Homo sapiens: one gene and its partners. The protein of the gene in region 4 interacts with the protein of the main gene of each other region in a pairwise test. Each region holds a gene or a part of one and is shown on either strand. Other genes may lie near its edges. The genes, in order: DRC4, OPRM1, FGF14, EHHADH, EBP, CAPN3 and IKZF3.

The links.
Region 1: the proteins of EHHADH (region 4) and DRC4 interact in binary tests that used the Homo sapiens proteins (3 or more experiments, as listed by UniProt).
Region 2: the proteins of EHHADH (region 4) and OPRM1 interact in binary tests that used the Homo sapiens proteins (3 or more experiments, as listed by UniProt).
Region 3: the proteins of EHHADH (region 4) and FGF14 interact in binary tests that used the Homo sapiens proteins (3 or more experiments, as listed by UniProt).
Region 5: the proteins of EHHADH (region 4) and EBP interact in binary tests that used the Homo sapiens proteins (3 or more experiments, as listed by UniProt).
Region 6: the proteins of EHHADH (region 4) and CAPN3 interact in binary tests that used the Homo sapiens proteins (3 or more experiments, as listed by UniProt).
Region 7: the proteins of EHHADH (region 4) and IKZF3 interact in binary tests that used the Homo sapiens proteins (3 or more experiments, as listed by UniProt).

The regions. Positions count from the first base shown.
Region 1 is NC_000016.10:90,042,170-90,046,205, reverse strand, and holds the end of DRC4 (dynein regulatory complex subunit 4), read right to left. Parts: intron 3,737-4,036; coding exon 3,671-3,736; intron 3,305-3,670; exon of another isoform or gene 3,011-3,304; coding exon 2,861-3,010; 3' UTR 1,246-2,860; downstream 1-1,245. UniProt on the Homo sapiens protein: Component of the nexin-dynein regulatory complex (N-DRC), a key regulator of ciliary/flagellar motility which maintains the alignment and integrity of the distal axoneme and regulates microtubule sliding in motile axonemes.
Region 2 is NC_000006.12:154,045,170-154,049,814, reverse strand, and holds part of OPRM1 (mu-type opioid receptor), read right to left. Parts: intron 1-4,645. UniProt on the Homo sapiens protein: Receptor for endogenous opioids such as beta-endorphin and endomorphin. Receptor for natural and synthetic opioids including morphine, heroin, DAMGO, fentanyl, etorphine, buprenorphin and methadone.
Region 3 is NC_000013.11:101,724,320-101,728,964, reverse strand, and holds part of FGF14 (fibroblast growth factor 14), read left to right. Parts: intron 1-2,154; coding exon 2,155-2,353; intron 2,354-4,645. UniProt on the Homo sapiens protein: Probably involved in nervous system development and function.
Region 4 is NC_000003.12:185,191,863-185,195,470, forward strand, and holds part of EHHADH (peroxisomal bifunctional enzyme), read right to left. Parts: intron 1,626-3,608; coding exon 364-1,625; 3' UTR 1-363. UniProt on the Homo sapiens protein: Peroxisomal trifunctional enzyme possessing 2-enoyl-CoA hydratase, 3-hydroxyacyl-CoA dehydrogenase, and delta 3, delta 2-enoyl-CoA isomerase activities. Catalyzes two of the four reactions of the long chain fatty acids peroxisomal beta-oxidation pathway.
Region 5 is NC_000023.11:48,524,808-48,527,011, forward strand, and holds part of EBP (3-beta-hydroxysteroid-Delta(8),Delta(7)-isomerase), read left to right. Parts: intron 1-2,181; coding exon 2,182-2,204. UniProt on the Homo sapiens protein: Isomerase that catalyzes the conversion of Delta(8)-sterols to their corresponding Delta(7)-isomers a catalytic step in the postlanosterol biosynthesis of cholesterol.
Region 6 is NC_000015.10:42,357,325-42,362,416, forward strand, and holds the start of CAPN3 (calpain-3), read left to right. Parts: upstream 1-2,176; 5' UTR 2,177-2,481; coding exon 2,482-2,790; intron 2,791-5,092. UniProt on the Homo sapiens protein: Calcium-regulated non-lysosomal thiol-protease. Proteolytically cleaves CTBP1 at 'His-409'. Mediates, with UTP25, the proteasome-independent degradation of p53/TP53.
Region 7 is NC_000017.11:39,766,362-39,771,006, forward strand, and holds part of IKZF3 (zinc finger protein Aiolos), read right to left. Parts: intron 133-4,645; coding exon 1-132. UniProt on the Homo sapiens protein: Transcription factor that plays an important role in the regulation of lymphocyte differentiation. Plays an essential role in regulation of B-cell differentiation, proliferation and maturation to an effector state.

The DNA of each region.
Region 1 (4,036 bases), on a different chromosome or scaffold from region 4:
CCTGAGCAATTAGGACAGCACTGTGTGGGCTGGGCGTCCCGTGCAGGGTCACAGAGACTCATTACCCTCATGCACACACGCTATGTTTGTTGTTGTTGTTGTTGTTGAGACAGAGTTTCACTCTTCTTGCCCAGGCTAGAGTACAATGGCGTGGCATCAGCTCACCGCAACCTCCGCCTCCTGGGTTCAAGCGATTCTCCTGCCTCAGCCTCCCTAGTAGCTGGGATTACAGGCATGCACCACCACGCCAGCTAATTTTGTATTTGTAGTACAGACGGGGTTTCTCTACGTTGGTCAGGCTGGTCTCAAACTCCCGACCTCAGGTGATCCACCCACCTCGACCTCCCAAAGTGCTGGGATTACAGGCGTGAGCCACCACACCCAGCGTGCTATGCTCTTTTTCTTTTTTGAGATGGAGTCTCTCTGTTGCCCAGGATGGAGTGCAGTGGCACGATCTTGGCTCACTGCAGCCTCCACCTACCCAGTTCAAGCAATTCTTGGCCTCAGCCTCTCGAGTAGCTGGGATTACAAGCACCTGCCACCACCCCCGGCTAATTTTTGTATTTTTAGTAGAGACAGGGTTTCACCATCTTGGCCAGACTGATCTTGAACTCCTGACCTCGTGATCCACCCACCTTGGCCTCCCAAAGTGCTGGGATTACTGGTGTGAGCCACCTTGTTCGGGCCTGCTCTTTCTAATCACAGCAGAAGCGCACACTTTAAAGACCAGCTGGCAAGAATGATGGGAGGTTTTCCAGAAGTGACTATGGGCAAAGCCACGGTTATTCAGAACCCTGATAAGGGACCAGGGCACACAACACAGACGCTCCGTGGAGTTGGACAGGCCCACTCTGTGGGTGAAGGTTTGGTAGTTATTGACCCAGAAAGCCACACACTTTTTTTTTTTTTTTTTTTTTTTTTTTGAGATGGAGTCTCGCTCTGTCGCCCAGGCTGGAGTGCAGTGGCACGATCTCGGCTCACTACAGCCTCCGCCTCCTGGGTTCATGCCATTCTCCCGCCTCAGCCTCCCGAGTTGGGACTACAGGTGCCCGTGACCACGCCCAGCTAATTTTTTTGTGGTAGAGATGGGGTTTCACCGTGTTAACCAGGATGGTCTCGATACCCTGACCTCATGATCCGCCTGTCTCAGCCTCCCAAAGTGCTGGGATTACAGGTGTGAGCCACCACGCCCAGCCAGCCATACACAATATTTTAAGTGAAAACCACAGGTTATAAAACAATACAAATAGTATAATCCACTTTATAAGTTTTTAAACAAATATACTTATGCATAGAGAAAATCTGGAAAAATATATGCCAGCTATAAAGTGGTTCTTGCTCATGGGATAAATTGTGGGAGACTTTTTCCCTTTTTGCTTCTCTGTGTTGTGATTTCCTAAAGACAGGGCAGTGGTGTCCCTAGACTGCTCTGGAACTGCAGGACCTAACAGCCTCACTGTGTCTGCTCACCCAAGTCTGACAGGTGGCAGGGCAGTGTCTGAGGCCCACTGGGATGCAGACCCAGGAAAGCTGGGGTGGGGGGCTTCTGGTCCCCATCTCTGCAGCCTCATCCTCTCCCCAGCTACACAGACCCAGATGGTCACTGTCCTGGACCAGATGAAGGCAGGCACCTACAAGCTCACCTTCGACACTGAGGGCTACTGGAGGAAGAGGGGGCAGGAAAGCTTCTACCCACATGTGGAGGTGAGAGCCCCAGTGGGCTGGAGGGGGCTGAGGCTCATGACTCACTGGGATCTGCAGGCCAGGTCCTGCTGGCCGGGCATCATTTAGGCAGTGGGCAGACTGGTCCTGGGCGGTGGCAGGTAGGTGAGCTCACTTGCTTTGAGCTCCCAAAAGAAAGGTGTCCAGGCAGCAATAGACTCTACGAGGACACACCCGTCACTCACCTGCCCAGGGTCAGGCTTTGTGGGGAGGCTGGGCCAAGGGTGATTCATCCCCTCTTTGTTGACAGAGGTTTTCATCTGAGCCAACTCCAGCTCTCTGGGCCTAACCTCACTGCCTCACCCCACACTGGAGCCGCCGCAGAAGCGCCTGACTTACTGGGCTGTGGCTTCTGTGGAGTGTCCCTCTGGTGCGGAAGGTTCACCCCATCCCAGACCCTCAGTCTGGGCTGCTGAATTCTCTCAGGTGTGTTGGGGCCAGATAGGTGGTTTGCTGCTATCCCCTTATACTCTCTCCTGGCCTCTCCATCTCAGGTTGTTTTAACCATCACCAGCAAGGCCCAGAAGTTCCACGTGCCCCTGGTCCTACATCACCTACCGAGGGAGTTAGAGCGAAGACTGGCAGCGGGAGGCTGCCTGCCCGTTCCCGCACGCTGGCTGCACCCACCCAGCCCTCAACAGAGCGGGCTTTGTGCTCATCAGGGAGCATTGGCTCACCACTTCCTAGGGAAGTCCCGGCCCCCTGGAGAATCCCACTGGGCAGCTGTGACTCAGGTGTCAATGAAGTTAGTGCCAGCACCTGCAAAGCTGTCCATTCGGTGGGACAACAGTGGCGCGAAGACAGGCAGCACAGCGCGGCACTGCCCCAACCCCCAGGTGAGTGCGGGGCACTCTGAGAAGGTGCCGCCGACTGTGGTCGGAGGTGAGACCAGGGAGTAGGCCTGGACACAGGCTGGACGTGCGGCACCCAGGGAAGGGAGCGACAGGGACACCATGGGTGAGGGTCCTGCAGGTGGTTCTCCTCCACAGAGCCAGGAAAGAGGATGGCAAGAACATGTGAAAAGCTTTCATTTGCTGATGATAAAATCTAAAAAACTTGCTGTCCTTGGTGTGATAAGGGGTGTCATCCCGAGTGTTCCTAGGCTGGTTCTCTGGGCTGTGGCCCCCCAGGGGGGCAGCTACGTCGGGGTGCCCACCAGTCCCGCGGGGCCCTGGCCCAGTGTCTGTCCGATCACAGCTGTTTCCAAGGGCTTGAAGCCCACGTTGTCCAGAGGGATCCCGAAGGCCAGCAGCTTTGCCTCATACGTGCGCAGCAGGTCGTTATGGGCCTGTGGAGACAGGGCAGTGTCAGGGAGCTGAGGGTCCCCACGCTCAGGACCACCAGAGCTGAGTGCAGCTCCATGGAGGGGCAGCGTGAGCATCACGGTGCAGAAGGATAAAGCCAAAGGCTTATCAGTCATTTCCCGTGTGGGACACAGCTCCAAGCACCTTCACTGCGTTGGCTCAGGTAGCACGACAGGGAGAGGCTGTCACTATTCCTATTCCACAAATGACGAGACGGAGGCAGAGGGCAGGGACACTCAGGGCAGAGCTGTGGTCTGGGAGGGCTCTGGGCCCTGGCTGGGTGTTTCCCACTCAGGTTCTTCACGCCCTCCCTTCCCCTGTTGAATGACGTCTGTTTCCTTCCCCGGTGGGCACAGCACCTTCTGACTCCCTGCCCAGGGGAAGGGGCTGACCAGGGAAGCGTCCAGGTCCCCCCCTACACCCATCCCAGCAGAGACATGGCCTAGACAGCAGTGCACTGCCCCAGACCACACAGAATCCAGATGCTCTCGGCTATGACTGCACCCTCACGTGGGGACAGTGACAGCTGCCTTGTCAAACGAGGTACGAAGTGGGCACAGGTGGGGTCCTCAGAGACCGTCTGCATTTAGAACAGTCTGGGCACCGAGGGGGTGCCCCTGAGGGAGGGCAGGGCACAGCCGTACCTTACAGACCTGGGCCAGCTCATACTGCAGGTCCTTGATGGTGCTGTTCTTCGACTCAAGAACATCCTGAGGAGAGAGAGGTGATGGGAGTTTGAGACTCATCTTTTGGCCGAGGCAACGGGAGCGGCCTGGGGACTCCAGTGGGCGTTCTGAGAGATCCAGCGAATAGCAGCCTGGTTTGATGGATGCATCCATCCACACAGGGTTGTCAGCAGAAAAAGGTCTCCAAGGGTGGAGAGAAAACAAGGAAGAAGCAGAGAACTGGGAGCTTGCACAACCTGCCTCTCCAGCAACAGTCCAGGCCAGGCACTGCCGCTCACACCTGTGATCCCAGCAGTGTGGGAGGCCAAGGAGGGCAGATCACTT
Region 2 (4,645 bases), on a different chromosome or scaffold from region 4:
TCAATCAATGCGCTGTATATATTTTAAATTTGTGTGATGTGGTTGGGTATCTGGTGACTCATGAGTGAGTTATATGGGAATCCATTTTGTTTTCAAACGATTCTACCTGATTATAATAAAACATACAACTTGTCATCATGTCATGAATTTGCTACCATATTTAATTTGGAACATAGCTTCCTGATTTTCTTCTTTACTAGTGTTTCAAAAATATTTCCTTGAGGAACATTTTATATATATTTGATTCTCATTATTTGAGGATTCTGTATTTGAAAATTGGCCTCTTCACTAAAATCTATTAATATTTACCCGCAAAATAATACTTGGCTTTTGCAGTCATTTGAGGACCTGTGTGGACATGTATAGAGCAGCAAAAAATTTGAGTTGCTCTCTGTGCAGGTTCCCAGGTAAGGTCAAACAAGGCAATGCTCTGCTGTCTTCTTTCAGCTTGTACTATAAACACGTGTCCTTTTCACAATCTATTTATTGCCACATTTTTCACATTTCTGTGTTTTTTTGTTGTTGTTGTTGGTGGTGGTGGTGACTTCACTGTTTAAAATGGTCTCAAACATAGTGTGGAAGTTCTGCTTAGTGTCCCTAAGCCAAGAAGACTGTGATGTGGCTTATGAGGAAAGTACTTGTGTTACAGAAGCTTTGTTCAGGCATGATTTATAGTGCTGTTAACCATGAGTTCAACGTTAGTGAATCAGCTATATATTAAATAAAGCGTCTTTAAACAGAAACACACATAAAACAAGGTTACGAATGCATTAGCTGATGAAAATTTTATAATCAGAGGCTCACAGGAACCTGCCCTATATATCCCCTAGAAGCAAAGCTTCAGTACTCACGAATTCTGTAGTCATAATGACTTTATGGACCATAACTATCATGAATAATGGGAATTGACTATATTAACTTTTTATGTTTTTACTTCTTCAAATTTTACTTTCTGAGTTTTTATTATAAGAGTAACCATATATTCCCTTTTTAAAGTTTGTAAACTCAGGAATATATGCATATATAGACATGTATGTGTTTGTATTTGAATTTATGATTTGCTAATATGTATCTATGGTACAGATCACTTTTCATGACTCAAGTGATAAAAGCTAAATATGCATGAACAAAGTGAATTGAGAAAATTATTTAAATTAGATTTTATACTTGAATAATTTGAGGTACATCTGAATTGCTAATAGCTTAGAATTGTACAGTATTTTGAAGATATTCAGTTCTGTTGGTCAACTTTGAATGTTGGATTTCTCACCTAAACACAAAGAGATAGATATAGTTCAAGTCTTTAAGTTTTATCAAGTGACATTTTATAAGGCCATGAGAAAATGCATAATTTTTTTTTAACAATGGTAGCATGTATTTTGGGTTATATTGCAGGGAAATTGGTTGTAGGAGTACTTTGGAGAGGCTGTAAGAAAGGATGGATTTAAGTTGATACTTGAAGAACAAGAAACATTTTGATAGGAAAAGAATGAGAGATACGTTACAGGAAAACAGAGAGAAAGAAAAATAAAGGAAACAGTATAGAAGAGATAAACATGAAGCATATTGGAAGATAGTGAAGGAATCAGGTTGGCCTAATTTACGTAAACGTTAATTTAAATCACACTAATGGTTTTCAGTGAATATGAGTGGTTAATATTTGAATCACTTAGGACACCTACTGTAAACTGAATGTGTTCCCCTCAAATTCACATGTTGAAAACCTATTCCCCAGTGTGATGGTATTTGGAGGTGGGGCCTTTGGGAGGTGATTAGGTCATGAGAGCAGAGCCATTATGAACACTATTAATGCCCTTATGAAAGAGGCCCTAGAGAGCTTCCTTGCCTCTTTGCCTTGTGGAGAAATGGGGAGAAGTTAGTTGTCTCTGCAAGAAGGTCCTCAGCAAATGCAGAATCTGCTGGTGCTTTCATCATGAACTCCTCAAGCCTCCAGCACTGTAAGAGTAAATTTCTGTAGTTTGTAAGCCACCCAGGCTATGGTACTTTGTTATAGCAGCCTGAACACACGAAGACACCTACTTACATACAGTGCATAAGCTAACATATTATTTAAAACAAACAAAAAACAAACAAACAAAAATTGTACTTAACAACATTTTTGCCTGGACAGACACATATCCAGAACAGAATGATCTCTCTCTCATTTAAACCCATCACACACTTCATCTTATGGGAAAGCCCTATCCATTGGTTTACGAAAGTTCACTTGATTAGATTTGGTGGAACCTCTTTGCATCAGATTTGGAATACAACATCCAGGATAGGACTAATACCTAAAGGCAAATATTAAAACCATCTCCTAAAAATTAAACAGAGAATGAGAGACAGAGAGAGAGAGAGAGAGAGAGAGAGAGAATTTTGCCCACGCTCCACCTTTGCCAGTCACGCTTTTAGGTTATGCGTTCCTAACCCTTAAGGAGGCAGCACATACTCTGACTCACTGTTTTTCATTCCTTGTCTTTCCCCATCTTGCACCCAGGCCCTCAGGTACACAAAACAGCAGGACCTTTTGCTTGGGCCTCCCAGTGCAGTAAGAAGATGACTTTTCCCTCTCCTTCCTGCATTTCTGCTCAAACATGTGATGCTCACCTGGTGGCTTCTGTGGGGTGGGGGTGGGGGGAATGAAACATGATGGGGTTGCACCTTTTCCCACTTAACCACTTGCCTGTACTCTCGAAGCATATGAATAAAGGCTTGACTGTAACTTTCTGTTTCCCTTATTGTCCTAATCATAAACACCACACCTGGCAGTTCAGAGCACACTCACTCTTTCTCCCTTTGACAGAACCTATTTGAGCTTATATAGAATCCAAAGGGCTGTGATGGAATGGCAACCACGATTGTTTAGTTTTGTGGATGATTCCTCTTTTCCTCCAGATTGTATTGCTGGGAAAAACATGCTCTTAATAGTCATTGAAGTTGCCATAGGACATTTTAGTACTAGAAAGCGTTTAAGATTTTTTTAGTCCAATTCGCACCTTTTTACAGATAAGGAGAGTGAGGCGCAGAGTGCCTTGAAGTCGAGCCACAACTGACACTTGGGGCCCTGAGCCAGGGCAAGGTTTCTCTTCCTTGCTGTTCTTCCTTTCTAAATTTGTATCTGAGAAATTGATGGGGAAAGAAAAAAAGTTACCTGAGGCAAGAAAGGATGGGTAAAGAAAGGAGTTGCTTGGTAAGCTCAGTATATGATGCTTGTTGTATATGACGTTTCCTGCATTTGATGCTTCAGCTCACTTTTGAAGACTGAAATTTTCTTGAGCTCAATTAATCACAAGATACTCTTAACGTTACTATATAACATGAAATTAATGGAAAAGGGAGTGGCAGGATTTTTTGTTTGTTTGTTTTCTTATACCCTCAGATAATTTGCCAGAAGGCACAGGAGGCTTTATTTCCTTTACATGGCACACACAATTCTGCTCCTATTATCCTGAGCTCAAGAAGAAGTAAACTGAACACTGGACATGACTGGTGCCCACTCTCTCTCCATTCAGCCAAACCTACCCAAAAAAGCCTTTCCTAAATCCCAAGGCAGGAACAAAAATGGAAGGAAAAGCTTAGCTTCTGAACTCTCTTGGTAGTTCTAACTGGTGCTGCCTATCAGAATTTTTCTTACGAGTTTTTGATAGTTAAGAGAAAACCTTTATTGATAGGTCTGTAAGAGCTCTATTTATTAAACAGATTTTACTGTGCTAACGTATAGTCACCAATTATAAAATAACAGGAAGGATATTCAGCAGAGTGTGAGATACGACCTTGTGTGAAGGTGAACCATTTTGAAAAGTGGTTGCTTGGCAAGGAGTGGGAAACTAGAAGAGTAAACCAGGGAAGAGGAAAACGAGGCATGTTTTTGAGACGGTCACAATGTGGGCGGGGCCTTCTGATGTGCCTTGTAGTTGGCACCTCAGAATTGTACACCTCAGGAGAGAGGGGAGCAAGGGCAGCATTTTTCCACAGGCTTCCATTTCCTGGTCAAGGGAACTTTCCTGAACTTCCAAATAGTGCCTTTGTGAGTGCCAGGCTGATTCCTATGGAGGGCAATTACTCCAGTAGAGAAGCCCTAGGGCAGAAAGTAAGTGATTTAGATGCAGCCAAGGTGAAGTGTTACTCAGTTATGTCTGGAAACTGACTGCCATATCAACGGCTGAGGTAGAAGGCGAGGTGAAGGACATGAGGTGGGCACGAGAAGGATATGAAACAACGTGAAAGCCATTGCTTTCAAATTTTGCCTGGTGGAGCCCTAGAAATTCTATGGTGGTCCCTTGGGGACAGCACTGGTGGGTGGCATGGGGGTGCAAGGTGAGCAGTGCTCTTGGTCTCAACATGTGGTTACATCTGGACAGTTGTTCTGTGATCTGTTTTATATATTGGGTCCCAAGTTCTTGAAATAAGTGTCTACATCTAAAAACAAGTTTGAAGACTGCTGTCACAGATAATTATTTCAGTCAGATAAACATTAAACTTAGTGAGGACTAAAGACTTGGAATTCTTGTATTTTAAAATGACATGCACCATTTAGTCTTGGTATTTACCCCTAGTACTTTTTTTTTTAATTTATTTTTTTTGTTTGAGTCGGAGTCCCACTGTGTTGCACAGGCTGGAGTGCAGTGGTGCGATCTCGGCT
Region 3 (4,645 bases), on a different chromosome or scaffold from region 4:
ATGGAGACAATACATCCCTAAGTTGCTGATGGTGTTGCAAGCACCATTCATGTTTTGGACATTATGGCAGTGACGATCAGAAGAGAATCCTGTGGACCTACGTTTCTGGTGTTTGTAGCAACAGGATGAGCATCAGTGAGCCAGGTTCTGGGCAGAGACACCCGAAGCCCAGGAGGCAGAGCCAGATTCCCCTGACTTCCACTAAGTGACCCACTAAGTCAGCTCTCAGCATGTCACTCATAGCTGATTTTGAGATAGGTTTTTAACTGGTAAGCAATATGCTTAGGTGCCCTGCCCTGTCTCAGTAAAAAGACAAGTGAAATGCCAAAGTCTAATCCTTTTGTTTGAGAAAGTATAGTTTCAACCAATATATTTATTAGTCTCTTGGGGAGAAGCCAGATTTATAGCATTCCATTTTGTTTTACTCACAATAAATGCATGAACATGTACTGTTTTATCAATCTTTTTTTTCGGGCGCATGGCCTGGACATTGACTCAGTGGACTCTCATTTATTAGTGAGAAAACTAATTGGAGGATATATGGAGATGCAGAACTCAGTAGAAAGCCAGAACATTTATTTGGATGGGATCTTATTCTAATCTGAGGTAGCATCATCAAGAAGAAATAAAGATCTACATAAGTTGCTCCAGGAGGGGGCTAAACCTGTCATTTGGCTATTGTGATTTCATCAAATTGATCACTGTAACTGTCATCTTTGTCTTGAAAAGCATCTGCCACTAACAAAGGCTGTTCCCCTTGGAAAACTATTAGCTCTCAGTGAATGAAAGTTATTCAGCACACTGAATAAATTGTCTCCTGCATGAGACAGCATTTGATAATTCACACTTTTATGGGGAATATTGAAAGGAAATTTCTACATGACATTAGGTCACATTCCTAATTACAGTTAGCATAAAGTCAAGCCCTTAATGTTTTAGTTTTTAGCCCCTAAGGAATATTTTTCAGAACAGGTATACAACATTTTTAGAAGAAAACCAAAAATTATTATTTTCTGCAATAATAAAATCTATTAAAGAAAAATGAAAACTTTGTGTATATTTTTTAGTCCAGTGGTATTTTCAAAAAGATCAAGGACAGTAAGGATCTATTTTCCATCTATATTTTATATACATATAGAATAGCACAGTGTTGGACCTATTTAAAACTAGCTAGGTGTCTTTCATGGTCTATAACCAGACAGGTTGAACTTCAAATTTATTTTTAATAGAGGGCTATCAAAAATGCATATGTAGATTGTACCCTTATTAATTTTTTATTTATTTGGCATGGGATTATATTCATTATTATTCATCCCAAAGTAAGAAGTATATAAAAATCATCTGTGAATATTTCTGACATTAATAATAATTGTAAAGTAGTAAGCTTTGTGCTGCTCATCAATTAATGCAGACCATGGCATTGAGCATAATAGTATTTAACAAACTGTATGCTTTCCAAAAATGCTGTGTGGTTTTTCAGTTGGAGCAGCTTTTGATGTTTATCTTCAAGAGTTCCAACGGGACTCAAACCTTTGGAGCCCCATTGAATTATTTTCAGCTACTGTCACTATGACCAGCTAACATGACACCTAACCTCATCTGGTTATACAATAGCTCTAGTGGCTGGCAAGTAAGCCAGCTGATTGTCTAAGTTTTAGTTTGAGGTTTCAGTTTGTTCCTTTGTAAGTAAAATGTATCACCCTGTGATTTCAGTGATCCAAGGAGCAACTGGCAACTGTAGAGTATTATATCACTGTTCCTATGGAAACATGTAAAATGGATTATAAAATATCTGAAATGTGTATTTTATTTGGTTCACTTTATTGTGAATATCTGATGCTACTTTAATGCTCCCTTTCTGATTATACTCTGGTTGAATTGTCTTCTGTTTAAGTTAAATCTTTAGTTTGCTCATGTATTGTTTTCTTATGATATACTTTTGCTTCTATATATTTTCAATAATAGTAGGTTCTTCTCAATTTATTGTATATTTTAAAAATGTATAGACAATTACTGTGCGCAGGAAGGGGTATATCCGGTCCTCCATGCCAAAGCACTCTTTCACCATGCTGGGAAACTTTCTAGAGAATGAGTAGAATGTACAGTGAAGATCAAGTTCCTTCCTCTAACTTTTGTTTCATTTTCTCTCCACAGGAACTTTTTACCCCTGAATGCAAGTTTAAAGAATCTGTTTTTGAAAATTATTATGTAATCTACTCATCCATGTTGTACAGACAACAGGAATCTGGTAGAGCCTGGTTTTTGGGATTAAATAAGGAAGGGCAAGCTATGAAAGGGAACAGAGTAAAGAAAACCAAACCAGCAGCTCATTTTCTACCCAAGCCATTGGAAGGTGAGTATTATGCATGCATTATTATTACATAGACTTATTACATATTTTATTTTTCAAATTGATAGGTCTACCATGGCTCTAAGAAACCTTCACAAAGTGCTGGAAATGTCATTTATTTTGATCTAGGTGATGGTTGCACAGGTGCCTACTTAAGTTATTGATTTAGAATTTGTGCCCCTTATACACTTTACTATATTTGTGTATGTATGTGTACCAGGAAAAATTTCTTCTCTGCCACCTCCAAAGGCTCAAATCCTCACTGCTACAACCACTCTAACCCTTAGATAATTTAAATTAATTAAGTTAAAACAATTTTAAATCTGTAATGATACAAATCTGCGATGATAAGTATATTAGAAAAAGATAATAAGTATATTAGAAAAAATAAGTTTTGAGCGTGGAATCAAAAGTATTTTCCATTTTGATATTATCTAGGTGAAAGTAATTACCTACTTGTGGATTATTATAATTACAGAAAAATAAGAGATAATAGCTTGACTCTTAAAGAACTTGCTGATATTACACATCTGCTTTCAAATTGTGTAATTCTTCACTGTATACATTTGTAGCATTACTTCTTTTACTAAAATAATTTATCCACATTCATTTGTGTGCAGGAAGGGGTATATCCAGTCATCCATGCCGGATGAATGGAAATTTCACATTTACTCCAATCAGATACCCAAAGAGCAGGCTACAAAGTTTTTTTAATTAATCAACAACATCTGCACCTCTCTCATTAATGATTCTGCCAAAAGTGTCATTTACTTTTATCTATGTAACATTTGAGAATTACAAAAATATTTGATTTTAGGATATTCACATGTGTTTCTATTCAAGTTCTTTTGTTTACTCTTTTGCAGAAGATCAGATCTACAATAACTCAGTAAATATTTTAAGCTAGCTTGGACAGCTCAATTTTCTTTTTGTGTTTTATTCCTACAGGAAAGGCTTAGCCATCACGAGAAAATGCATATTGTTTTCATAATGCATATTCTCTATATTGAAATAAAATAATTTAAAAATTTGAACAGTCAATTCTTCATCATCTGTGAGTGTATAATTTTCAATTTGCCTAAATTCAGAAAATCGCTCTTGTTGGCTAATACTACTTCTGTAATTTCAATGATGTTGACTTAGTGTCACTCTTAATTATATTTTTCTGTAGAACAATTTATTGAAACCCAAACAGTTAGCTACCAGGGCCTATACAGGAAAAGACAGATTATTCCAGAGTCTGAAATATGAGTGAATTATTCTCAGTATATGGTGGATCATAAGGATGATTAGAGTAGAAAGAAGTTAGAGGATTTCCCTGTTCCTCCCAAAAAAAACACATCCATGATACACTTTCATTGTTTTAAATAAATTTTGATAACATTGGACTCACCTATATTTAAATGCAAATAAAAAATTAAAAAATAAGCCCACAGAAGCTCTAATAAGACCATTGTTTATTTGCCACCGTGCTTTATCTCTTTTCACTCATTTTATGTTTTGTAAATAGTTAAGAATTGACTAGATTTTTAGAACCTTACCCTTTAGCTGCATAAATGTAACAAAACCCAAAAGGGCTGTTATGTCATTTAACCGAGGTAAAATTTGGGAACCAGTTATTTTGCATATCTCATAGAAAATATCTGAGACAACAATGATGTGGTATAGAATGATACTTGGTATTTCACTCATGTATTTGTTATGTGTATATGAGTGTTTTGTGTGTATATATACATATATATATATGAGAAAGAGAGAAATAATACTTTTTATGTTTTCAAAAAATTAGCAGAAGTACTCTAAAAACAGTTAAGGGGGTAGGTACTATAACGACAGAGATTATCACATTGTTTACTTGATAGAGGAAAATTAATTTCAAACTTTCAAAACCCATACCGAATATAAATAATGTTATTGGAAATGTTTGACAAATTAAGTACCTGGTTAATTATTGGTACTCTAGGGCATTCATATCTTTGTTTTATATATATATATATATATATATATATATATATATTTTATTATTATACTTTAAGTTCTAGGGTACATGTGCACAACGTGCAGGTTTGTGACATATGTATACATGTGCCATGTTGGTGTGCTGCACCCAGTAACTTGTCATTTACATTAGGTATATCTCCTAATGCTATCCCTCCCCCATCCCCCCACCCCACAACAGGCCCGTGTGTGTGATGTTCCCCTTCCTGTGTCCAAGTGTTCTCATTGTTCAGTTCCCACCTATGAGTGAGAACATGTGGTGTTTGGTTTTTTGTCCTTGAGATAGTTTGCTGAGAA
Region 4 (3,608 bases):
AAGGAGTCAAAATGAATGTATGACTTAGCTGCATTTATCATTTATTAATTGATGACACATTTATCCAATGATAAAAGCATTTGAGAATCTCAACTTATGCCTGAGCCTCTTTCATTAGCTATTATGGTATTATATTCACACAAGTTCATGCATTGAATTTATCTGATAAGGACAGATTCAGAGGCATAGGAAGCACATTCCTAAAGATTTGACCATTAGAGTCGTTACACAGAAGATTCTAATGATTATTTATTTTGCTTTGTATTTCAGAACAATCTTACTTTGGATTTTTGATTTAATTTCACTGAAATTCAGTCAGCATTACCTGATGCTAGCATGTGAGGCATAATCTGGAAGACTGAATCACAATTTACTGCTAGGGGAGCCTGCCAAGCTTTGCCATTCTTTCAGGGGAGGGTTTCCCTGAGAAGCCAGTTTTTTTAGATAGTCACTTGGCTCCAGTTGGGGAATATCAGGGTTCTGCCTGTAATATTTCTGCAATTTCTCTAGAACTGTGGGCAACCCAACTGTGGAAGCATAGAACATGGGCCCGCCCTTGTGCCTTGGCCATCCATATCCATGTAAATAGACAACATCAATGTGCTCTGGGCTAGCAGCTATCCCTTCTCCCAAGATACGGAATGCTTCATTGATAAGTGAATATAAGCAGCGTTCAAGGATCTCATCCTGGCTAATGGTACGTGGTTCAATGTGATGGGTTTTTCTATACCGTGATAGGAATTTGGAAAGCCAGGGATCAGGTTTGTGAATCCTACCCAATGGCTTGTCATATTGATACCAACCCTTACCTGTCTTCTGGCCAAATCGTCCTAATTCACAGAGCACATCAGGAATTGGGCAGTACCTCCTATTACCCCTTTTTCGGGCAGGAGTTCCTGGAAGCAATGTAGGTCCAGTAAGACCTTGCCCCTTTCTAGATTTCCAGCCCACATCCAACCCAGCAAGATCAGACACTCTAAAAGGTCCCATTTTAAAACCAAACTCTTCCAGCACCTGATCTACCTCCTCTGGTTTGCTGCCTTCTTCTAACAAGAAATATGCCTGATTGTAGTAAGGATTCAACATTCGATTCCCCACAAATCCAAAACAGTTGCCTACAACGACTCCAATCTTTTTAATCTTTTTTGATAAGTTCATAACAGTGGCAATGGTAGTGGGGGAAGAGTATTGGCTGGGAATAACCTCTAACAACTTCATGACATGAGCTGGCGAAAAGAAGTGGGTGCCAATGACCAAGTGAGGACGATCAGTGGAAGAAGCAATCTCATCAACATCCAGGGCTGAAGTATTAGTGCACAAAAATGCTTCTGGTTTGCACACAGCTGAGAGTTCAGCAAAGACCTGCTTCTTCAGGCTCATTTCCTCAAATACTGCTTCAATGACTAAATCTACACCACCAAGCTCCTTCACAGATGAAGTTAACCTGGGTTTTGGTCCTGACCAAGGGTGGCCGCTCTGTTGCATTTTGGAGGCTTCTTTTTCCAAGACAGAGGTTATCATCTTGTTTGCAGTTGCTAGCTGGTTTTTGTCCGAGTCTACAGCAATCACAGGAATCCTGGCCCTTGCAAAAGAAATGACAATGCCTCGGCCCATTGTTCCCAAGCCTGCAGATAAAAATCAAAGGAGAAAAAGAATGATTCAGTGGTATTGGGAACTGATAAATTATTCACTGGATGGAAGGCTTATGTGACAATGTGGCATTTAAAGAGATTGAGTCAAGAAACACAAATGGATTGAGTACTAGTTAAGACTCTGCACTCTCTTAAGTGTTTCAGAGGATATAAAAATTAGTCAGATTCACACACACAAATAGAAGCTATACAAACTAATAAATGAGTCCAACGAGATTGTAGGTACACAATTGATATACAAAAATCAAGTATATTTCTATATATTAGAAATAAACAATCTGAATATAAAATTAAAAGAAACAATTCTACTTACAATAGCATCAAAAAGAATAATACACAGGAAGAAATTTAACAAAGAATAGGAGGATTTGTACACTAAAAAGTACAAAACATTGTTAATAGAAATTAAGTAAGACCAAATAAATGGAAAAACATTAAATGTTTTTGTATCAGACAACTTAATATTGTTAAGGTGGTAATACTACCCAAATTGATGTGAAGAACCAACACAATTCCTATAAAAATCCCAGCTGGTTTTTTGCAGAATCAATAAGCTGATCCTAAAATTCACATAGAAATGCAAGAAATCCAGAAGAGCCAAAACAATACTGAAAAAGAACAAAGTTGGAGGATTCACTCTTCCCAATTTCAAATTGTATGACAAAACTATTCAAGGTTGGGTGAGGTGGCTCGTGCCTGTAATCCCAGCACTTTGGGAGGCCAAGGTGAGAGGATCACTTGGAACCAGGAGTTTGAGACCAGCCCAGGCAACACAGTGAGACTCCAACTCTATAAAAAATTAAAAATTAGCCAGGGGGCCAGGTGCAATGGCTCACACTTGTAATCCCAGCACTCTGGGAGGCCGAGGTGGGCAGATCACCTGAGGTCAGGATTTCAAGACCAGCCTGACCAACATGGAGAAAACCCGTCTCTACTAAAAATACAAAATCAGCTGGGTGTGGTGGTGCATGCCTGTAATCCCCACTACTTGGGAGGCTGAGGCAGGAGAATCACTTGAACCCAGGTGGCAGAGGTTGCAGTGAGCCAAGATCGCACCATTGCACTCCAGCCTGGGCAACAAGATTGAAACTCTGTAACAACAACAACAACAACAACAACAACAACAACAACAAAAATTAGCCAGGCATGATGGTGCATGCCTATAGTCACAGCTATTTGGGAAGCTGAAGCAGGAGGATATCTTGAGCCCAGGAGTTTGAGGATTGCAGTGAGCTATGATCACACTACTGCACTCCAGCCTATGTGACAGAGTGAGACCCTGTCTCAAAAAAAAAAAAAAAAAAAAAAAAAAAAGAAGCCTATAGTATTTAAGACAGTGTAAGATAGTGGTCATTGCAAAAGGATAGACATATAGATTAGCAGAATAGAACTGATAGCCAAAAGCAAACCCACACAATTATGGCCAATTGATTTTTAACAAGAGTGCCAAGAACATTCAACAGAGAAAGTATAGTCTTTTCAACAAATGATGCTGGGACAACTGGATATCCACATGCAAAAGAATGAAGTTGGACCCTTACCTCACACCATATACAAAACTAACTCAAAATGGATCATAGGCCTAAATGTAAGAGCTAAAACTATAAAATTCTTAGAAGCAGATCTTAGGAGTAAGTCTGATGGATGGATACATCTTTGTGATCTTGAATTAGGCAATGGTTTCTAAGACATGACACCCAAAGCACAAGCAACACATGGGTAATAATCACATGAAAAAGTGTTCAACATCAATAGTCATTAAGGGAATGCAAATCAAAACCACAGTGAGATAATGCTTCAAACCCACTAGGATTGCAATAATGAAAAAGACAGACAATAACAAATTTTGGTGAGGATTTGGAGAAATTAGAACTCTGATACATTGCTGGCAAATTTTTTAAATGGTACAGTTGCTGCAAAAAACAGTTTAGCAGTTACTCAAAATGTTAAACATGG
Region 5 (2,204 bases), on a different chromosome or scaffold from region 4:
CCTCCCCAGTAGCTGGGACTATACTATAGGTGCACACCTTTATGCCTGGCTAATATTTTCACTTTTTTGTAGAGACAAGGTCTTGCTATGTTGCTCAGGCTGTTCTTTAACTCCTGGGCTCAAGCAATCCTTCCACCTCAGCCTCCCAAAATTCTGGGATGACAGGTGCGCACCACCGTGCCCAGCCTTATTTAACTTTTTTGTTGCATGTATATTCACGTGGGTCAAAAAACCATTTAAAGAGATTTGCAGTGAAAATCTGCTTTCTATCCACTAAGTTTCCCCAAACGCTGTTAGGCACTGTTGATAGTTGTTTATGTTTCTTTTCAGTTTATTTACACACGTAAGTCTCAATTTGCTCAATTGTAAAAGGAGGATAATAGTAATAACCAACTATATGTAAGATACTTAGAACAGTGTTTGGCAAACAGTGGTTGCCATGTAACTGTTCACTATTATTATCATTATTTGCACTTTTCCCTTTTTACACAAATGGTAATATGCTATATATACTTCTAATCTTTTCTCTTTTTCTTTCTTTCCTTACAAGAAAACCAAAGAAGCCATTTTCTTTTTTGAGACGGGGTCTCGCTCTGTCACCCAGGCTAGAGTGCAGTGGCATGATTATAGCTCACTGCAACCTTGAACTCCTGGGCAATCAAGCAATCCTCCTGCCTCAGCCTCCCTAGTAGCTGGGATTATAGGCATGTGCCACCCCACCAAGTTATTTTTTTTTTAACAACTTTTTTTTTTAAGAGATGGCGTCTTGCTTTGTTGCCCAGGCTGTTCTCCAACTCCTGGCTTCAAGTGATCTGCCCACCTCAGCCTCCCAAAGTGCTAGGATTACAAGCATGAGCCACCGCACCCAGCTGCTTTTTTTAATGAGGTCACTCCTCATGATTTCATAAAGAGCTTTCAAAGCATGGACATTGTACAGTTGCTTGACTTGTGTAGTATTGATGGGCATTTTCCCTCAATCTTCTGCCATTATAAACAAGGCCGGGCAGAGTGGCTCATGCCTGTAATCCCAGCACTTTGTGAGGCGAAGGCGGGCAGATCACCTGAGGTCAGGAGTTTGAGACCAGTCTGGCCAACATAGTGAAACCCCGTCTCTACTAAAAGTCTAAAAATTAGCTGGGCGTGGTGGCAGGTGCCTGTAATCCCAGCTACTCAGGAGGCTGAGGCAGGAGAATCTCTGGGACCTGGGAGGCGGAGGTTGTGGTGAGCTGAGATTGCGCCACTGCACACTCCAGCCTGAGCGATAAGAGCAAGGCTCCGTCTCAAAAAAAAAAAAAAAAAAAAAAAACATTACAGGCATGAGCCATTGTGCCCGGCTGGTCAGATGTTTCTTAAATTTTAGTCATTCCAGTAGATGTGAGTGATATCTCATTATGGTTTTAATTTGCTTTTCCTTAGTGACTAATGGAAGTTTGAACATCTTTCATATACTTATTGGCCATTTAGAAATCCTCTTTGTGAAGAACCTATTCAAGTCTTCTGCCTATTTTATATTGGATGATCTTTTTCTTTCTTTCTTTTTTTTTTTTTTTTTTGAGACAGGGTCTTACCCTGTTGTCCAGGCTGAGCACTGTGGTGCTATCATAGCTCACTGCAGCCTCAACCTCCTGGGCTCAAGACATCCTCCCACTGCAGCCTGGGACTGTAGGCACGTGCCACCACGTCCAGCTAATTTTTGTATGTTTTATAGAGTTGGGGGTCTCACTATATTGTTCAGACTGGTCTTGAACTCCTTTATGCAAGCCATCATCCCACCTCAGCCTCCCAAAGTGTTGGGATTACAGGCATGAGCCATCGTGCCCGGCGGTCTTTTTCTTTCTGATTCTCTGCTCACTCTTGTATTCACTCATCTGTTCACCTACATTCTCTCTCTCTCATTGGCTACTTCACTCACTCCATCATCTACACCTGCTTCCTTTTATACCACACACACTTCTTGAGTACCAATCACAGCCACACTGTTTTGTGTCAGGCTTTACACATATTACCTTGTTTTAGAGAAATAAACCACTAGAATCCAAACAGTTACCCCATTTCACGGATGAGGAAGCAGACGCATGGGAAGGTTATGAAGTCTGTCTTCTTGCAGGGACCCCCAGCTCTCACAAGTGTGTGTTCCTTTCACTGCCTTTATTCTTCATATCTCTCTCTTCTTTTCTTCAGGGAAAGAGTATGCCAAGGGAGAC
Region 6 (5,092 bases), on a different chromosome or scaffold from region 4:
TAAATAAGCAAAAACAATACAGTGTGGGTCAGTGCTCTGAATTTCAGGGTGGGATAGAATGCTAGGCTGGGACCCAAACTTATGACAGTGGGGGAAAGAAACCCCACCTTTGCTGTCTATGCCACTGGTGACTTTGAGGGTGGAAGTCAGTCTTTTTGTTGCAGGCAGATAGGCCAGCTTCTGATTGGAGATGCTGCATACCACATGAGCCTGGGCAGATTATACCTATTCCTGTGCTGTCCACATAGCAGATATTCAGTTAATGCCCATTGAGTGGATGCTGATTTGCGTCAGCGAGTAAATGTAGCATTCGACCTGATCTAACTCCAAAGTAATATTAAATTCAGGTCTTCTCTAACAACACCATTTATTGAGTGCTTAAGAAAATCCTGGCACTGTGTAAAATGTATTACATAAATTATTTAATTGTTACCAAAACCTAATAACAGAATGACTGTAATTGTACCTATTTTATAGGTGAGAAATCTGAGACAGAAAGGAAGAAATAACTCACCTAAAGTTACACAGGCACAGCCAATAAGGGGCCAACCTAGACTTTGAACCGAGGTGGTCAGTCACCAGAGACCACTGTCCTCTATTCTGCCTCTCCAAGACTAGTAAAAAGCCCTGGGCATTTTCTTGGAGGGACAGATGGCTAGGCTGATGGTTCCTGCAAGCCCAGACATAGAGTCCTTCAAAGCCGCAATCCCAGGGATCAGGAGGCTGATAGTACTCCCTATTTTACCTGTCACTTCCCACCTTCTTCCATAGCCTCTAATCTTGGATTATTGAGACTGGTCGCATGGGAACAGGCATGACTGCAGCCTAGGACATGCCTCCACTCTGCCATACTTGAAATGTGCTCATCTCCTTACAGCCCAGGGAGCAGCTATTGTGGGTAGAAGACAAGGTGGAGGCCAGGCAGGCACTTCCCTTCCCCAGAGCCACTTATGCTCTCATCTAAGAGCCCTGAAACCAGGTGTGACATCCCAGGAGTTGACAGACAGTCTGGTTCAGTATCTAATTCCAACTTCTGTCTCAGATGCCTAATGTGGCATGGCTGAATGAGTCAACATATAACCTGTACAGTAAGTCCTCACTTAACATCATTGATAGGTGCTTGTAAACTGTGACTTTAACGAAAACATACCGTGTGCTGTAGGGACTTAACTCTTGTTTATATCAGTTAGCCTGGTTTCACTATACAGTACATCATTTTGCTTAAAGTCACAGCTTACGAGAACCTATCGATGATGTTAAGTGAGGATTTTCTCTGCTCAGGTGCACTTTTTTTTTTTTTTAAGACGGAGTCTCTTTCTGTCACCTGGGCTGGAGTGCAGTGGCGTGATCTGGGTTCACTACAACCTCTGCCTCCTGGGTTCAAGCAATTCTTCTGTCTCAGCCTCCCAAGTAGCTGGGATTACAGGCACCCGCCGCCACACCCGGCTTATTTTTGTATTTTTAGTAGAGACAGGGTTTCACTATTGTTGGCCATGCTGGTCTCGAACTCCTGACCTCATGTGATCCACCCGCCTCGGCCTCCCAAAGTGCAGAGATTAGAGACGTGAGCCACATGGCCCAGCAGGACCACTTTTTAGCAGATTCAGTCCCAGTGTTCATTTTGTGGATGGGGAGAGACAAGAGGTGGCAAGGTCAAGTGTGCAGGTAGAGACAGGGATTTTCTCAAATGAGGACTCTGCTGAGTAGCATTTTCCATGCAGACATTTCCAATGAGCGCTGACCCAAGAACATTCTAAAAAAGATACCAAATCTAACATTGAATAATGTTCTGATATCCTAAAATTTTAGGACTAAAAATCATGTTCTCTAAAATTCACAGAATATTTTTGTAGAATTCAGTACCTCCCGTTCACCCTAACTAGCTTTTTTGCAATATTGTTTTCCATTCATTTGATGGCCAGTAGTTGGGTGGTCTGTATAACTGCCTACTCAATAACATGTCAGCAGTTCTCAGCTTCTTTCCAGTGTTCACCTTACTCAGATACTCCCTTTTCATTTTCTGGCAACACCAGCACTTCATGGCAACAGAAATGTCCCTAGCCAGGTTCTCTCTCTACCATGCAGTCTCTCTTGCTCTCATACTCACAGTGTTTCTTCACATCTATTTTTAGTTTTCCTGGCTCAAGCATCTTCAGGCCACTGAAACACAACCCTCACTCTCTTTCTCTCTCCCTCTGGCATGCATGCTGCTGGTAGGAGACCCCCAAGTCAACATTGCTTCAGAAATCCTTTAGCACTCATTTCTCAGGAGAACTTATGGCTTCAGAATCACAGCTCGGTTTTTAAGATGGACATAACCTGTACGACCTTCTGATGGGCTTTCAACTTTGAACTGGATGTGGACACTTTTCTCTCAGATGACAGAATTACTCCAACTTCCCCTTTGCAGTTGCTTCCTTTCCTTGAAGGTAGCTGTATCTTATTTTCTTTAAAAAGCTTTTTCTTCCAAAGCCACTTGCCATGCCGACCGTCATTAGCGCATCTGTGGCTCCAAGGACAGCGGCTGAGCCCCGGTCCCCAGGGCCAGTTCCTCACCCGGCCCAGAGCAAGGCCACTGAGGCTGGGGGTGGAAACCCAAGTGGCATCTATTCAGCCATCATCAGCCGCAATTTTCCTATTATCGGAGTGAAAGAGAAGACATTCGAGCAACTTCACAAGAAATGTCTAGAAAAGAAAGTTCTTTATGTGGACCCTGAGTTCCCACCGGATGAGACCTCTCTCTTTTATAGCCAGAAGTTCCCCATCCAGTTCGTCTGGAAGAGACCTCCGGTGAGTAGCTTCCTGCTTGCTGGCTGGGTTTTCCCCCCACGGAGGAGTCCTCTCACTCAGCACCTCCGGCAGCTCAGCTGTGCACATGGGCACTGGGGGAAGGATCCTGGCAGCAGCTCTGCTGGGCTCTGTCTTTAAGTGTGAAGCAGGGAGGAGAGGAACAGGTCTCAGATATTTCACCAAATCTCAGCAAAATCCAGAGGGAGAGCGCAGGAGGTGGGGCTGATTCTTATGCTCTGGCTCTTTCTCTCTGAAAAAAAAAAAAAAATCTTGCTTTTTATAAAAGTGGGTGGAACTCAGTTTAATTCATCCTGTAAAAATAAATATTCCTTTCTCAGAACAAATTCCAGACAGCCCAGATGTACCTGTTCGTTTTAAATATTATTCATCTTTGTAAGATTATTTCAGTTTCTCTGGCTAAAATCATGATGTTATTCTTCTTTAATTTACCAATGGCCATATCTTTCTGAAACACAGAAACCCTAGAAAGAGAAGAGTCATAGGCAAGGAATATTTTTTCATGCATAAAATGTTGGGGTTAAAGAGAGAGAGACCTAGCAATCGCTTTTGTCCACCTACCTCACCTCATAAGTGAGGAGTCAAGGCACACTAGAGTGAAATATATCTAGTGGGCACATGACAGAGCCCGGATTAAAACTTTCTGTTTTAGGAAACTCTCCCAGCCTCTGGGTTTCATTTACAGTGATCGCCAGGAGGGAAATCACATTCCCCTGGCTCACCTCTCTGATCATCCCTCCAGTGTGACTCTTGTTCTTAATTCGAGAAATATTTATTGAGCATCTACTAGTGCCAGCACTGGGCAAGCAACTGGGGGGACAGCAGTGAGTAAGAAAGACCAAAATTCCAGCTGTCTTGGAACCTAGGGTCCTGAAGGGAAGATGGGCATTGAACAAGAGTGACATTGTCAGGAGACGATGTTCTGGGTGCCACAGGATCATGTGGCAAGGAGAGCTAACCTGGTCCAGGGAGACAAACCCTCTCTGAGGAAATGATGACAAGCTGAGACCCAATACTATTGATTAGCCATGGTTTTCTTTAACCTAAGGTGGGCCAGGCATGGTGGCTCATGCCTATAAACCCAGCATTTTGGAAGGCCCAGGCTGGAGGATTGCTTGAGCCCAAGAGTTAGAGACCAGCCTGGGCAACAGGGTGAAAACCTATCTCTTTTGTACTAAAAATTCAAAAAATTATCCAGGCATGGTGGCACATGCCTGTGGTCCTAGCTACTCAGAGGCTGAGGTGGGAAGATCACTTGAACTCGGGGAGTTGAGGCAGCAGTGAGCCGAGATCATGCCACTGCACTCCAGGCTGGGTGACAGGAGTGAGACCCAGTCTCAAACAACAACAATAACAACAACAAACCTGAGGTGGAGTACTAGACAACCCTGTATATTCCATAGGGGCTCTTCTTGGTTCTATGGTAAGGCCCATAACTGTCCTGAAGGCCTTCAGTTTAGAAGATAACACTACTCTGCTATCAGAGTAGTTGGACATGTCACAACCCCCTGCTGAAATATCTTCAGTGACATCCCTCTCTCGGCCCCCACTGCCTTCAGGACAAGTCCAAACTCCTTAGCCAAGCCATAGGCCCTTCTCAGCTGGTCCCTGCCTACCTGTCCAGGCCCATGTCCATCCTCTTTCCCCAGATCCTGACACACCAGCAGTGCTTGGACATTTAGCTGCTCTGTAGTTCCAAGTCTTCTCACACCGGAGGCCTTTGCTCATGCTGTCTGTCTGCCTGACATGCCTTTTTTGTTCCTATCTGAACCTCTGCTCAGGTGTCACTTCCTTCAATCTTTCTCATGACTGATTTCCTCTCACTGAGAGCAGAAATCCTTCCTGTTCATCTTTGAGGCCCCCTCACCAAGCTCAGGCCAGTCCCATAGTGGGTACTCAGCTGATGCTGGTGAGTGAAAACCCACGCCCAAGGGCCTTGACCAGTGAGACAGGATAGGCCTGCGTTCCCAGGCAGGGAGTTCCTAAAAGCCCTTTCTTGGGCCAGACATGGAGGCTCATGCCTGTAATCCTAGCACTTTGGGAGGCAGAGGTGGGAGCATCAATTGAGCTCAGGAGTTGGAGACCAGCCTGGGCAACATAGTGAGACCCTATCTCTATAAAAAAAGTTTAAAAAAATAAAAGCTCTTTCTCAGAATGGGGAAAATTAAAACCTACAAATACTGTTTTCAGTGAAATCATTGGTGGACTTGAGTCTTCAAGCGAGACTTACAAATTAATAAAAATTCTTTAAGGGCCTGTTATGCTCTAGGTACTAGATTGGGCA
Region 7 (4,645 bases), on a different chromosome or scaffold from region 4:
GGGCTTCGGCGCCAAGATAGCTGATGGCGTTATTGATGGCTTGGTCCATCATGCGGGTCTGTATGAGCTCACTCTCTTTCTCATACATGTAACTTGAATTATAGTTGACATCAAAGCAGTGGCGCTTCTCACCTGGAACAAGTGACAGAAAGGGTTACAAAGGGAACACTGCCAAGGCAGAGAGTTTGTAAATATTTTCTAGAGACCTCAAAAAGGGAGGAGAGTTAAGTTGCCTGCTGCTCAAGAAGACCAAGCCTGGCAGAATGGTTTCCCATGGTGCTGTCTCAGGGGACACTGGTCGGCAGCAACGTGTTTGGATGGTTAAAATAAAGCCAGCAGGCAGAAGAGAGGGGCAGAGATGTGGTTCAGTTGAGGCCACATGGTAAGGTATGCCCACTGTGCATGTTAGAGGAGAGCCCTCAAGAAAGGAGGGAAAGAAGCAGGACACTAGGATGGGGCTAGAGGGACAAGGGAGCCACCAGCCCACAGGAGCCTGGGACTTCTGCTATAGTTCATGATCTCTTAAGACACAGTCGGCTCCCAACTCTTATTTTGCTTTTGCTTGTTATTTTCTGCTTGCAATATTAGGTAGCCAGGGGGACAGAAGTGCTGCAAAGAGTGGGGACACTCGGTGCCTCACCTCGGCAGCTTTTTAAATAGCTACAGAGATAGAGAAAATAGCCCCCCAGACTCCAACTGGCTACTCCCCAAACTCACCCGTCCTGGCTGACTGAGACTGAAGTGAAAGAGCTTCAAATGTAGAAAGTTTGAGAAAAGTTTTCTTGAGAAGAGATCATGGTCTTTGTCCCTTTCCTAACGTGTGTTTCTCTTCCTTTGCTTGGCAAGTGTATCTCTGATACACATGTGATCATTAGGGCCTATCTCACACTTAACTGAAAAAATATACTTGTGGTCACCCTCTCCTACTTCTCATGTCAAACTGCTGAGAAGTTTTGAAAACAGAGTTTAGCCACCTTCAGAGTGTGTGGGTGTTGTGTGTTAGAAAACAGAGGCTCTCTGGTCACAGGGAAGGCAGGGATGGGGACTGCAGTGAGGGCAGATGTGCTCAGTGGTGAGTGGTGGGGAGAGGGGAGAGAAAGCGAGGAAGTGGAGCCGAGTGCTGGAGGTGAGGCTGAGGTCACTGTTGAGCCTCTCCATTCTGTCAGCTTGGATCCTGGAGGGATTTGCTAAACCATATCCTTCTATAATGTTTCCTAGTCATGTTGAGATTCCAAAATTTGTCACTGCCCTACAGTAAAGGGTTCAGCAATGAAAATAAAGAAGAAGAAGAAAAAATGCCATGAGAAAACAAAAGGATTGGAAGAACCAGTTCCTGTTCTTGAGGTGTCTCCAACCTAGTGGATGAGAAATAAGACCTATATATATATAGAACTCGAGAAAAAGTATAAGTTAAAAGTTGGCCGGGCGCGGTGGCTCAGGCCTGTAATCCTAGCACTTTGGGAGGCTGAGGAGGGAGGATCACTTGAGCCCAGGAGTTCGAGACCAGCCCGGGCAACATGGAGGAACCTTGTCTCTACAAAAAAATACAAAAATTAGCCAGGCATCTGTAGTCCCAGCTACTCAGGAGGCTGAGGTGGGAGGATCACCTGAGCCTGGGAGGCAGAGATTGTAGTGAGCTGAGATGGCACCACTGCACTCCAGCCTGGGTGGCAGAGTAAGACCTTGTCTCAAAAAAAAAAGTTGTAAAAGGACTGCTTTGCTCTATGGAGGTCTTTGCTTTTATTCTAAATGCCCACATTTGAGGCATTTAGGCAGGGAAGTAACGTGTTCTTTAAAAAGAATAATAAGGTAACATACAGGCATCGGTGAGACAATTTGGTATAAATTGTATATTTAGGCATTAAGGGAATGCAGAAACTTCAGAAGTACTTGGGGAAGGGAAAGCATTCTTGGAAAATCTAAATTTTGAGAAGGGTCTTGAACTGGAAGAATTTAGATTTTCAGAGAAGCGGGAGAGGACATCCTAGTTGAGGGGGAGTGCAGGAATGAAGGCAGAGAGGTGGGACTACACGGGACGTGTGCAGAAAGCGAGTCTGGCTGAAACGCGATCAAGAAGTATGAAATACAGTATTTCTCAGGCTTCACTCTTCCTTCACATTCTGCAATATCCACACACCAGGGCAGTGTGGTGGTTGAGAGAATAAACTCTGGTGTCAGATGGGCTGGGTTTGATGCTGGCTCCATTGGTCACCAGTTTTGTGACCTTGGGCAAGTCACTTAACCTATGTTCCGTGTCCTCATGTAAAGTGAAGATAATTGTATGTACCTCACAGGGTCACTGGAAAGCACTTAGAACAGGGCCTGCCACATGGAAAACACTTGGTAAATGCTTGGGTTTTTTTCCTCTGTTTGATTTGGTTCACATTTTCTTTCTTTTTTTCTTTTTCTAAAATAAATGTGGTTTTTAAGGAAACTTTATATCACTAACATAAACGGAAAACCAGAATCACTTTCCACAAGTAGAAGGTAACTATGAAAAATAAAGACAATGAAACAGAGCATTTCATTAAATTTTGATCGGATACTACTGTGAGTACTTGGAGACTAAGATCCCTTCCCCCTTTGTTAAAAACAGAGATTACCAAGTGTGAGATTAGTGTTAAAGACAACTGGCATCAAATTAAGTCTAAATTTTTCTCCTTAGTATGATCCAGGAGACTGAAAGAGAACTGGAAAGAAAATAATTATCCTGCTGTGTGGACCCAGGTTTTTAAATGCTCCATGTGCTTGCTGGCAATTTGCATCCTACATTTGGGGAAACACTGAAAAAAGATAATGCATGGTAGGACCGAATGGTGGGCATTCCGAATGGCCCACTGTAGGGTGTGAATCCGAACCAAGAGCCAAGGCTACCTGCCCTTGAGAAAGACAGGTTTGTGGTTAACGTAACAGCAATGTGTAAGGCAGACCAGAACAGTGAGAAATTGGAGCCAGAAGAACCAGCTAAAAGATCTATTCCCATGAGATGAATTTGTCTTTGCATCCCCACAAGCAGCTGACCTTAAGGCCAACCTGATAGTTTCCAGAGAAATACCTGAGAGAGAAAAAAAATATGCAAACGAAAATACCCTGTCTTGGAAACTCAATGAGAAGCAACAGCAGAGTAGACCTTGGCCAAAGTAATCAATGTTTTTTATTTTCAGTTTCCAGATTGGATATATCTTTGGTCAAGGCCATCTGGAAGACTGAGAACATGAGAGCCAGCTAAGGTCACAGACATTCATTCCCTAGAATGTGACACAGAAATGATGAACTTCGGTTTCTTGGCCTTTTTAAGGTTATTGGTTATTTTCCACTGTGGCCACCTCTATTCATCTCCCTAAATACCAGGGGTCCTTGAGAAACTTTTTCTCTTTTCACCCAACAGAGAGGCTCCAGAAGGTTTCTGGGTGGGGTAGGCACATCACAAACTCTGATTTTATCCTTTCTCCTAAGAGTTTGCTTTACTTAACAAGGCCTACAATTTCACAATCTATACCACCTGCAGCATATGTCAGAAAACAGCTGAGTGCTAAAATTGTAAAAGGCAAAACATTAAGAGGAAGATAAACCCCTGGATGAGTGGAAATATGTGACTGAATTCTGTAGTTAACACAGACCATTGTTCATTGTTAAGGAGATGGGGCAGCCTCAGATGTTCACGTGCATGCAACTTGCAATCATCAGATCCCCTCGTCTCTGAGTTACGGTAACTTGAGCAGTGCAGATGATTATCAGTCACCTGTAGACACGATGACTCAATGTGTATGAAACCCAGAAAGGGTAAACTACAGTAATTGAAAAGCCAACAGCTCACGTTTCTTTAGTAACACACTCATAAAAAAGGTTAGTCAAACCACAAAAGTGTAACTGCTTCCAAACCTGCACGGAGCATCTGGTCCAGCTTCTAGTCAAAATCACACCACGCCTTTGAATGATTCATGATACCAGCTTCAGGCTGAATTAGAGGTCTTCTTCCAACAAAAATACACACGGCAACAGCAAGTCCTAAGTTTAGAAACTAAGGCTGCCTGGTTGGGCCATTCCCTACCTGTGGTTCTTTTTAAAGGTGTCAATGTCTTATATCTTGGCTTTGTTAACTCTAAACTAAGAAACCACCTGACCTGAACTGATGCAATGTGGTGAGGACATATGGTTGTTGGCTTCTAAGTGCCAACTTGGAAGTACAGAATCACAGGCTAGAGCTAAAAGGGCCCTTAACTGAGCAAGTGGATTCAGAACTCTGTCTGCAGGGTTGAGGGGGAAGACCCACCACCCTAATATGTTTACTTCTGGTCTTTATATTTCACAGTACCTTGCACTGTGCCTTATATACAATAATCCCAATAATGATAAGTACTATTTATTGAGCCCCTGCTGTATCCACCGTGCCATCCTAGATACTTTGCATACTGTCTCATTTTACCAGCCCATTAGGGGTTGATACTTTTTTTTTTTTTTTGAGACAGAGTCTTGCTCTGTCACCCAGGATGGAGTGCAATGGTACGATCTCGACTCACTGCAACCTCCGTCTCCTGGGTTCAAGTGATTCTCTTGCCTCAGCCTCCCAAGTGTCTGGGACTACAGGCACGTGCCACTATGCCTGGCTAATTTTTGTATGATACCTTTTAAGGTATGAATTATC